2 separate regions of the Homo sapiens genome follow, and region 2 is linked to region 1. Evidence: fine-mapped expression QTL. A gene starts in region 1. The other region holds a variant in brackets. All regions are shown on one strand. Distances are from middle to middle. Region 1 holds the start of DMRTC2 (DMRT like family C2). Region 2 overlaps CEACAM3 (CEA cell adhesion molecule 3).

What was found. PIP is the estimated chance that this variant, and not a neighbour inherited with it, causes the effect. A credible set is the group of variants that fine-mapping cannot tell apart.
Region 2: its variant is the best candidate, but not a certain one, in a credible set for the expression of DMRTC2 in whole blood (TOPMed, PIP 0.54).

What each region holds. Positions count from the first base shown.
Region 1 is chr19:41,841,904-41,847,268 of GRCh38, reverse strand. DMRTC2 (DMRT like family C2) reads right to left here and starts at 2,227. Exons shown (of 9, transcript NM_001040283.3): 1 at 2,168-2,227. LYPD4 (LY6/PLAUR domain containing 4) reads left to right here and starts at 2,586. Exons shown (of 5, transcript NM_173506.7): 1 at 2,586-3,691.
Region 2 is chr19:41,808,142-41,813,506 of GRCh38, reverse strand. CEACAM3 (CEA cell adhesion molecule 3) reads right to left here. Exons shown (of 7, transcript NM_001815.5): 3 at 4,577-4,694; 4 at 3,490-3,542; 5 at 3,153-3,184; 6 at 2,610-2,675; 7 at 1,953-2,335. The coding sequence ends at 2,270. Among named protein-coding and RNA genes, the nearest start is that of CEACAM3, 14 kb to the right of the region's middle. The variant C/T (reference allele first, on the strand shown) is at 2,139.

The DNA of each region.
Region 1 (5,365 bases):
GACATTTCTCAGGTATCTTCCTTCTTCAGAAACCCCTCTCCTCTTCCTCTTCTGTGTTCTTTCTTTTTTTTTTTTTTTTTTTTTGAGATGGAGTCTCACTCTGTCTCCCAGGCTGGAGTGCAGTGGCACGATCTTGGCTTGCTGCAACCTCCACCTCCCGGGTTCAAGCGATTCTCCTGCCTCAGCCTCCTGAGTAGCTGGGATTACAGGCAAGAGCCACCATGCCCGGCTATTTTTTTTTATTTTTGTATGTTTAGTAGAGATGGTGTTTCACCATGTTGGCCAGGCTGGTCTCGAACTCCTGGCCTCAAGTGATCTGCCTGTCTCGGCCTCCCAAAGTGCTGGAATTACAGCCATGAGCCACTGCACCCGTCCCCCCTTTTTTTAATTTAAAAATTTTTAGGCCGGGTGCGGTGGCTCAAGCCTATAATCCCAGCACTTTGGGAGGCCAAGGCGGGTGGATCACAAGGTCAGGAGATCGAGACCATCCTGGCTAACACAGTGAAACCCTGTCTCTACTAAAAATACAAAAAATTAGCTGGGCGTGGTGGCGGGTGCCTGTAGTCCCAGCTACTCCAGAGGCTGAGGCAGGAGAATGGCGTGAACCCGGGAGGCAGAGCTGGCAGTGAGCCATGATCGCGCCACTGCACTTTAGCCTGGGTGACGGAGCAAGACTCTGTCTCAAAAAAAAAATTTTTTTTTAATTGTTTTTTATTTTTATAGAGACAAGGTCTCATTATGTTTCCCAGGCTGGTCTGGTCTCGAACTCCTGGGCTCAAGCGATCCTCCTGCCTTGGCCTCCCACAGTGCTAGGATCAGAGGCATGAGCTGCTGCGCCCGACATTCTGTATTCTTTCAATTCAAACATTCTTTTCTTTCAATCCAAACACTTTCCCACCCACACACACATCCTAGGTTCCAACCTACTCATGTCCTCACATACCCCTTCAGCGAGTCCTACATCCCCTTTTCACAAGCACCCTGTTCCGTCCCAACAGTGTTTCCTGGCATCCTCTTCAACAATGCTCACCCCACTCTCATGCATTCATCCAATGCCTACCAGTAGTTTTATGCCCCTTTCAATTCTTAGTTCAATTTCAATTCTTAGTCTCATCTATGCCCTGCAAAGCAACTGCCTCCTTGCATTCCTTTAGTCTTATTTTGTTCTTGTACCCCTTTAAATCAGAACCCTCTCTTGCACCCCCAATAATTACCTTATTCTCATGGATTCCCTGCTCCACTTTCTTTTTTTTTTTATTGACAGGGTCTCGCTCTGTTGCCCAGGCTGGAGCGCAGTGGCGTGATCATGGCTCACTGCAGCCTCCACCTCCTGAGCTCAAGCAATCCTCCTGCCGCAGCCTCCCCAGTAGCTGGGACTACAGGCTGGAGCCACTATGCTTGGCTCCCCTGTCCCACTTTCTTTCTTTCTTTTTTTTTGTTTTGAGATGGAGTCTCACTCTGTAGCCCAGGCTGTAGTGCAGTAGTGCAATCCCGGCTCACTGCAACCTCCGCCTCCTGGGTTCAAGCAATTCTCCTGCCTCAGCCTCCCGAGTACCTGGGATTACAGGCCTGTGCCACCACGCCCGTCTAATTTTTGTATTTTTAGTAGAGATGGGGTTTCACCATGTTGGCCAGGCTGGTCTTGAACTCCTGACCTGCCTCAAGCGACCTGCCTGCTTCGGCCTCCCAAAGTGTTGGGATTACAGGCATGAGCCACCGCACCCGCCACCTGCCCCACTTTCAAGTTATTTTCCTTCACTCCTTCATTCATTCCACAAATGGTTACTGAGCCCCTGTCATGTGCTAGGCCCTGATCTGGGCCAAAAACCTTCTCCTTGGGGCACTAATGTCTCTCTTGCGCTCACACCTTATTCAGGTTTTTGTGTAAACATGTGAAGTCACTGTGTCCAGCGCTTCCTGCTCCTGTGGCCACTACCAACAATTAATTTCATGCATGTCCCCCTCCCCCCTTCCCGTGCCCCAGGGAGCGAGTGGGGAACCGGGAACGCGCCAAGGGGCCCGCGAGGCAGGGAAGGGGAGAGGGGGCGCGAGGGCGGGAGGGGCGCGAGGGGGAGGAGAGGGGATGCCTGGGTTAGGGAGTCCGGCTAAGAGGGAGGAGGACGGAAAGGCAGGAGGGACCGTGTTCGTGCAGCTAGTTCACGGTTACCACAGCCTCCAATGGAGTCAGATTCAGTCAAGAAGACGCCCAAAGACACTGTGAGAAAGTGGCCAGAGGAACCGCCAAGCTCGCGCTGCTTTTCTTACCCTGTCTCACAAAGACCAATGAACTTCAAGCATCGCCTCTCTCAGCCGAGGCAGACGACCAATGCGGTTTGAGATCCTGAACTGATGTCCCGCCCCTTCCCTTCTGCCAGCTTCTTGGCGCACAAGACTATCAGTCCCACCAATAGCGCTTCGAGTTGAGCCTCGCGCCACCGCTGCCTCTCCCTCCGCACGTCCTGCCCGCCCAGACTGTCTTCCCCCTTTCGAGGCAGGTGGCCAATGGGGCGTCGAGTACCCCTTATTGGACCGAGGCTGGCCCCGCCCCCCAGGAACGGCCCGCCTGGCCCCGCCCCTGGGGCGTTGACCAAGCCCGGTCTGTGCACGGGTTGCCTCGTTTCTGGCCTTCCCTTGCCTTGTACCTCGACTTCGCGCGTGGCTTGTTTTTGCTGAGTGGAGGCCTGCGTTTTCTGTTATGTCTCTTCCGGTGCCCCACAACTCCTGAGCTACCCTTCTTTTATGCGTTCTCTCCCAGCGCTGTGATTACCGGGTTGCTTACCGGGCCCTCCTTCCTCAGATTGCACCCCTTTCCTTGTGTCTCTTCTTGTCTTTGTGTCGGTTGTGATTTTCCTAATCTCTGATTTTCCTTTTCTCTCGGACGCTCTCCCTCTTCGGACCCATTTTCTCCCGTGCTTCATGCCCTGATAGCCTGGCCCCTTCCCGGCTTCCTTCGCTACCGGGGACGCCTCTAGTTTTTCTGAATTTCTGGCTGGCTCCACCCTCCGCGTTCATCTTCCTCAAGAGTTCGCCCCTCTGGGGGCTCCTCTGTGTAATCGTCGCCTTCTCTGGGTATTTCTGTGAACTCCGTCTCACACCATCCCGCCATCTTCTCTGCCTTGGCCCCTTTTCTCTGTACAGCCAGCTCTGTGTCCTTTTCTTCTCCCCCTCTAAAATCGACTCCTCTTCTCCCTGAGAGCCCCACCTTTGTGCCCCACTCCTCATTTTCCTACGCCTCCCTCTCTCTGCTGGTCCTCTCTCTCCCTGCAAGGTTCCATTCCATCAATTTGTTTGTCTTTTGTAGGGGTGGCATCCCCTCTGACTACTGCTCCATCCTTTTTTTTTTTTTTTTTTTTTTTTTTTTTGCTTGAGGATTTCACTTCAATCTTTTCTGGTTGCGTCTCCACTTGTACTCAGCTTGTTAGGTCCAGGTCCAGTTGTTCTGCATCTGAGGCTGGCGTGTGCTGTCTTCTCTGATTGGCCTAATCTCCCTCACCCCCGTGAGATCTGTTGTCAGCCTTCGTTTCTCTTTCCTGTGTCCCAGCTTTTCTGCGGGTCTTGGCACCTTTCTTGGCCACAGATTTCTGGGTTACAGAGCATGTGTGTCTGAGGCATTGCAGGCAGAAAAGGGTGGCCGACGTGACCTCTAGCTGGACTGCTGGGCAGGGGAGCTGTCCTAGATAAAATTGGAAAGGTTGGGTGGCGCTTATCTGGGGTGGGGTGGGGTGTGGTCGGGGGAGGCTTAAAGGCCAGCTAAAGAGGTTGAACTTGATCCTTTAGGTAGTGGAGAGAGAGTGAGAGGAAGTGTGTGTGGGAGGGAGGGATAGTGGTAGAGGAACAGGGTAACCAACGATTATAAAGAGCTTAGCATTTGCCTAATACTTATGGTAATAATTTTATTGATCTTCACAATGACCCTATGAGATGTATTATACTTCATTTTATAAAGAAGGTAGTAGGCTCTGAGTTCAACAAATTGGACAGCTAGTAAATGAAGGGGTAAAGATTCCAACCTGGGTCTCTGAGGCCAAGGTCAGTGATCTTTGTACCCCCTCCTACACTGTTATTTTCCACCAATTCCCCACTTTCATTCCCTAACCTTCTTATAGGCAATTCTCATTCTAAGGTGGTTAATATGTATCTTTTGGTTTGTGTGTGTGTTCTCCCAGGATGTGTGTAGTGTTGTTGTTGGGGTTTTTTTTTTTTTTTTTTTTTTTTTTTTTTTTTTTTTTTTTTTTTAGCGATGGGGTTTTGCCATATTAACCAGGCTGGTCCAGAACTCCTGGCCTGAAGTGATCTGTCTGCCTTGGCCTCCCAAAGTGCTGGGATCACAGGCATGAACGACCACACCCGACCTCTGTTTGAGTTTTTAATTTATGCAAGTGATATTATGTTATATACTATTTGTAATAATCAGCACTGTGATTTTACAATCTATCCATGTACACATTCTGTCATTCTGTCATGATGTGTACTTTTTTTTTTTTTTTTTTTTTTTTTTTTTTTTGTTTAGACGGAGTTTCACTCTTATTGCCCAGGCTGGAGTGCAATGGTGTGATCTTGGCTTACTGCACCCTCCACCTCCTGGGTTCAAGCAATTCTTCTGCTGCCACAGCCTCTTGAGTAGCTGGGATTACAGGCTCCCACCACCACACTCGACTAATTTTTGTATTTTTAGTAGAGTCAGGATTTTGCCATGTTGACCAGCTTGGTCTTGAACTCCTGACCTCAGGTGATCCGCCCACCTCAGCCTCCCGAAGTGCTGGGATTACAGGCGTGAGCCACTGTACCCTGCCTCACATCCTGTGTACATCTAATCAACTTCTTCCAACTCCTGCGTGATATTCCATAGCGTACATCCCCAGCATGTTTTGCATTCACTTGGTCTCAGAGAGGGAAGCTCCCATTGTCTCAACCTACCATCACCACAATAATGCTGCATTCTCTGGGCATGGGAGCTCATGCCTGTAATCCCAGCACTTTGGGAGGCCGAGGTGGGTGGATTGCTTGAGCCCAGGAGTTTGATAACAGCTGGGGCAACATGGAAAAACTCCATCTCTACAAAGCTGGGTGTGTTGGCGCACACCTGTAGTCCCAGCTATTTGGGTGGCCGAGGTGAGAGGATTGCATGAGCCTGGCAGGTGGGGGCTGCAGTGAGCACAGCTGTCCTCCAGCCTGGGCAACAGAGCGAGACCCAGTCTCAGAAAAAAAAAATGCTGCATTATTGTGCATGTTCCTTTGTAGATGAAGGTGGACATTTTTGTAATACCTATGTAGGGTATACTGGAAATGGGTATTTATAAACCCAATTTGACCATGTAGTGTCAGACCCCTGCAATGCTGCTTTGGGCCTGAGATCCTGGTCAGA
Region 2 (5,365 bases), 34 kb after region 1:
ACTCTGTCACCCAGGCTGGAGTGCAGTGGCATTATTTTGGCTCACAGCAACCTCCACCTCCCAGGTTCAAGTGATTCTCCTGCCTCAGCCTCCAGAGTAGCTGGGATTATGGGCGTGCGCCAGCACGTGCAGCTAATTTTTGTAATTTTAGTAGAGCCAGGGTTTCGCCATGTTGGTCAGGCTGGTCTCGAACTCCTGACCTCAGGTGATCTGCCTGCCTCGGCCTCCCAAAGTGCTGGGATTACAGGTGTGAGCCACCACGCCCAGACACATCTCTTTTATTCTTAACAACTAAGCTTGTCACCGAGGAGAAGGTGGAGAGGTACTAGGGGCATGGAGAGCCCTCCGTCTCCCTCTCTCAGGACCTGGAGGGTGCTGGGACGTCACTGCAAAAACTGATGCCACAGTCAGGATAACCCTATCCAGGTGCCCATGTGTACTTTGTAGTGAACAATCATGATAAAATGGCCTTGAGAGGAGAGATGGATAGAACAAGCCCCTCTCAAAGATGCACACATCCTCATCCCAAGATCTGTGAATATGGCACATGGTCAAAGACACTTAGCAGATAAATGAAGGATGATGAGATGGGGAGATTATTGTGGTTTATCCAGGTGGGTCCAAAATAACCATACAAGTGAGACAGGGAGGCGGGGAAGTCAGTGAGGATGGAAGCAGAGCACAGAGAGGTTTCAAGATGCTGTACTGCTCGCTTTGAAGATGGAGGAAGGGGCCAAAGTTAAGGATGCAGGCGGCCTCTAGTAATTGGAAAAGGTGAGGGAACAGACTTTTCCCTGGAGCTGCCAGGAAGAACACAGCCAAGTGGACACGTTGTTGTTTTATGCCACTAAGTTAACAATGGAGTTGTCATCTCTGTTGCCTAGGCCAGCGTGCAGTGGTGTGATCAGAGCTCACTGCAGCCTCAACCTCCTGGGCTCAAGCGATCCTCCTGCCTCAGCCTCTTGAGTAAGTGGGACCAAGACACAAACCAACATGCCTGGCCTGTGGGAATTTGTCACAGCATCAACAGGAAACTGACACAAGAGACATCACCTTGTCTCATCTGACGATGTGTACAAGTGAGGTAAGGAGTCATTTAGAGCTAAATCCTGATGTAAATTTGCAGGTTGTTTTTCCTACTTCCCATCTCATGGCAAACAACCCTGGGCAGTGGCAGAATACCCTCAGGAACCGTGGCTCTGTGCTTTAGTGCAGGGACCAGCCTGATTGTGGGAAGGGGACACCTGGTCTGAGTGAACCTACATGAGATCATTACACTCCCCAGGGCCCTCAGGAGGGACAGAGAACTGCCGGCCCAGGTATGTGGTGGAGCTGCTGGTGAGGCCTGAGTGGAGGGCCCTGCAGGCCAGGGAGAAGAGGAGAGAGGTTGTCCCATTGCCATGGTAGACTGCGTGAGCTTTAGGTGAGAGAGCCCTGTGTCTCTGACCTGGAATCTCCTGTGTGGAGTGGAGGATTGTTCAGTGAGATCCACTCCAGGGGGTAAAGTGGGAACTGATGGGAAATGATGGGCTAGAGTCCCAGGTAGTGTCTGGGAGGATTTTACTCCAGGACTAAATTCTGGGTCTGTCCTCACCTTGATTACTCTGACAGGCCCTCTGTGTGTCCCCTGATATGGGTAAAGATGTCCTGAGCACTGGCCTTTTGGACAGAGAAGAAACCCAGTGGCCAGGGCTAGGCACCGTGGGTCCCTGGGGCAGTATGAGCACAGCCAAGCGCTCAGCTGGCTGGGCAGGTCTCCTGTGAATCCTGCCCTTTCCTGTGTAGGGTCCACCCCAGCCTGACTCCCAACCCCCTATTTCTGCCTCCCAGGGAAGAGAGACTGGGGTTGAAATAAGTTGGAGATGACATTTTCCTTGTGTGACCCAGGAGAGAATGGATATGGAGTTTCAGGCGAATTTTTGCTAAGTTCCCACTAGCAGAAAAACAGCTAATGAGAGGAAGGGTCCCCTTTATTCAGATCCTTTCCAAGTGACCCCAGGTGGGCCACAGGCCCATTCACTTTCCCTGCAAGCCCCCGCTTTCTGCGGTGATGAGAGGCCTTTGTCCTGACCCACCCAGGGCCTAGGGCAGGCTGTCGAGGTCTCCAGATATTCATCAGGGACCCCCATCCCTCCCTG[C/T]CCCCAGACACCAGTGTCTTCTCAGGACTTATAGCTGGTTCTCTGGCTCAGGCTTCATGTCCTTCCCCATCCCCAGGGCTGGGGGCCTTGGGGACTCTCCATCAACACACAGGAGCAGCTCCTGGAGGAAGCTAAGAAGCCACTTCTGCTTTGTGGTCCATCCGGCAGTAAATGTTTGTGTCATGTTTTAGCAATTCCTGTTAAAACAGAGAAGAGGCCTGGACCCCTCTAGTCTCCTCAGAACAGGGTGTGGCGTCTCCCAGGCTCTGGGCCCATCCAGGGCTGCTCTGGGGCTGAACCTGGCTGTGCTCAGGGGGTTCCTGCTCCCAAGCCCCTCCCTCCTCTGCTCGCCACCCCCGTTCTTATTTTCACAGCAGTTTCCTGAATCTCAGAGCTCAGCCGATGCCAGTAGGGGAAGATCCTGGGTCCCCTGGGGCCTGTGGGACCAGAACATCCGTGGCCCACACTCACCTCATAGATGGAAGCTGCTGTCCTGGGGTTGGGTAGGGGGGCCTGGGCAGTGGAGAGAGGGGACATCTGTGGACAGGGAGGGAGGGTCATGGAGGCCCAGCCTGGAAGTTTCCTGTCTCTGATTGGCCAGGATTTACTTCTCTGTGTTTACTTCTGGTCATTTCCCCTCAGGAGTGACCAGCTCTGCCCCTGAGCTCAGCCTCCCAGTGTGGACACAGCACCCTGACCCTTTTCCTGGCTGGGCCCACCCTGCACCCTTGTTAATGTGGGCCCCTGACTGATGGTCCCAGTGTCCACTCTGCACCTGCTGCACTCCAGGGGTCTCCTCAGGTGATGGAGGGTCCCGGGGAGGGGTCAGCACAGGGCGTGGGTGGTCCTGACCCTGTAGGGAGGCCCAGCTCCTGGCCAGGGCAGGGCTAGCCTTGTCCTGTGTGTTTTGGGGGAAGGTGGGTCTGTTCTGTGCTGGGGGGCTGATGGTCCCTCTGCCCAGAGCCTGCACAGCTGGGACCCCAGTAGAAAGGGGCTGGAAGGGGACAGGCTTACCGAGAAGGCAGAGCTGTGGGAGGGACCACGGCCTGGAAACAGAGACAGGAGTGAGCAGCAGGGTGGGAGGAGAGCCTTATCCCCTCTCCAGGAAGGCGTAGGGGGTCCTCAGCTCTAAGATACCTGAGCAGCTGAGGTTGGGGAGGTGACCCATGACCCAGAGCCCACAGGTGAGGGCTGACCCAAGCAATTGGGGTCCCCTGTGTGATGTTTTATGAGATCCTCCTTGCAGCCCCCGGGAAAGGATCAGAGTCTGCCTGGCAGTGACTGGCAGGAGCGGACACTGTGGGGCTGTCCTAGGGGTTCCCAGCCACACCTGGGCTGAGAGGACACTCACCAGGGGCAAGGGCTTGGGGCTGCTGCTCCTTGAGGTCACGCTGGATGCTGGTTCTAGGAAAGGTCAGGGTCATTTGGGAGGGTGCCAGGTTAAAAGCCACAACTTTGGAGTTCGAACAGGGGACAAGAAGGGAAACCCATTTTCAAGGATGGGCATGGAGACCTCCTGTCTCCCTCAGGTTTGTGTTAGGGGGAGCCCAGCAGAGGGGAGTTGAGGAAAGGCTTTAGGAACCCACATCTGTCCTGAGCAGAGGGGAAGGACCCTCAGGCAGATGCCGGGCCAGGAGAACATTGACCCAGGGACCCAGGAAAGGGACTGAGGACCCAAGGAAGGAAACAGACCACGAGGGTTTGCCTGAGAGGAAGGGTCAAGTCCCCAGAGGCAAAGCAGGGCCACGTGTGCAGGACACGGAGGGGACCGCAAGTGTCTTGGATTCTCCTGGAACTCAGTGTCCCTGCTGTGGCCAGACCCTGCACTCAGGGCTGGTGATGCTGAAATGGGACAGTGTCCTTGTCCTCTCTCTCAACCCCTTGGCAAGAGACACAAAGGACGCTCCAGGACATGCTGTTCTGAGGCCCAGGTTCTCCCATCTCACACCTCAGGGCCTATGGTTACCACATCAGCCATGGGGGGCACTGACCCCACCCAGCCTGTCCAGGCTGGTCCACTCCCCATTGTGTGACGGTGCCCAGGATCCGGAGCCTGCAAATCCCCCTCACTGTGTGGATGGATTCAATGAACAATGGGAGGTACCAAGTACAGAGCACGCCCTCCCTCCCTCCCTCCCTACTTCCCTCCCTCCTTCTCTCCCTCCCTCCAGGCAGCTGTGGCTTTGCTGTGTGAGGGAACTAGGGCCACACTCAGGGGTGGGGCCTTAATTGGGCCAAATTCACAGAGGAGGAAGCTGTTGAGGCAGCAACCCAGGGTCAGGAGCTGACGAGGGAGGAGCCGTGGAATAAGAGGGAAGGATCCCTGGGGACTTGGGAGGCCGTGGAGAGCCTGGCCCTGAATACAGGACAAGGTCTCCTTTCTTTTGGCCTGGAGTCAGCCTAGGGGGTGGGAGAAGGATGGGAAAAAGCTGTGGTACCTTCCAGTTTTGGCAAGGAGCAGGAAACACACCAGCGCGGCCACCAGCGCCACTCCGACCAGGACCCCGGTCACGATGCCGGCGACGGCCCCCACAGGAAGGCCTGGGGCATTTTCTTCTGCAGAAAGAAGAAGGCAAAGGGGATAGAGGCCCAAGTCTATCCCAGAGGAAACCACAGGGGCCTTGCAGGGAAGGTGTGCAGTCAGGGAAGAAGGAGATGCCATGGGGCCTGAGTGTAGTCTCTTGTGTTGTCCTCATCACAGATTCCCTTGCTTTCCATGGTGGCACCATTTTCTGCAGGCTTGACACACTGGGCGGCACCAACTCATACATTGTCCCAGAGGTGCCTGCACCTCACCCTGCTCCTGTGCCTTTTAGTCCCTCCTTCCTCTCGCATCATGCCTCTTCCCTCTGTTTCTCCTTTTCCATCCCATGACACTCACAAAGGGCAGGCCCTTGGCATCAACTCAATGCTGATAAGCAGGGATGATGTTCATTGACTGTTTTCAGGGGCCTTCCATGTGCCAGTTCCAGTGGGCACCAACCTACCTACAACTCATCTCATCCTTACATCACCTTGAGGGAGAGGGGGCATCACCCCCAGCTGCAGAGTTAGAATCTGAGACTTAAAGCACCTCAGTAAGTCAAGGAAGGTCACAGAACTCGTAAGTGATAAAACAAAATTTGTACAACATTCCAGGCTGGCCCCAAGGTCAGCTGTGAGAAATCAGAACAACAAGGGGAGGAGGGGTCCTGCAGAGGTGGAGTGAGAGGGCTCAGGGTAGAGTT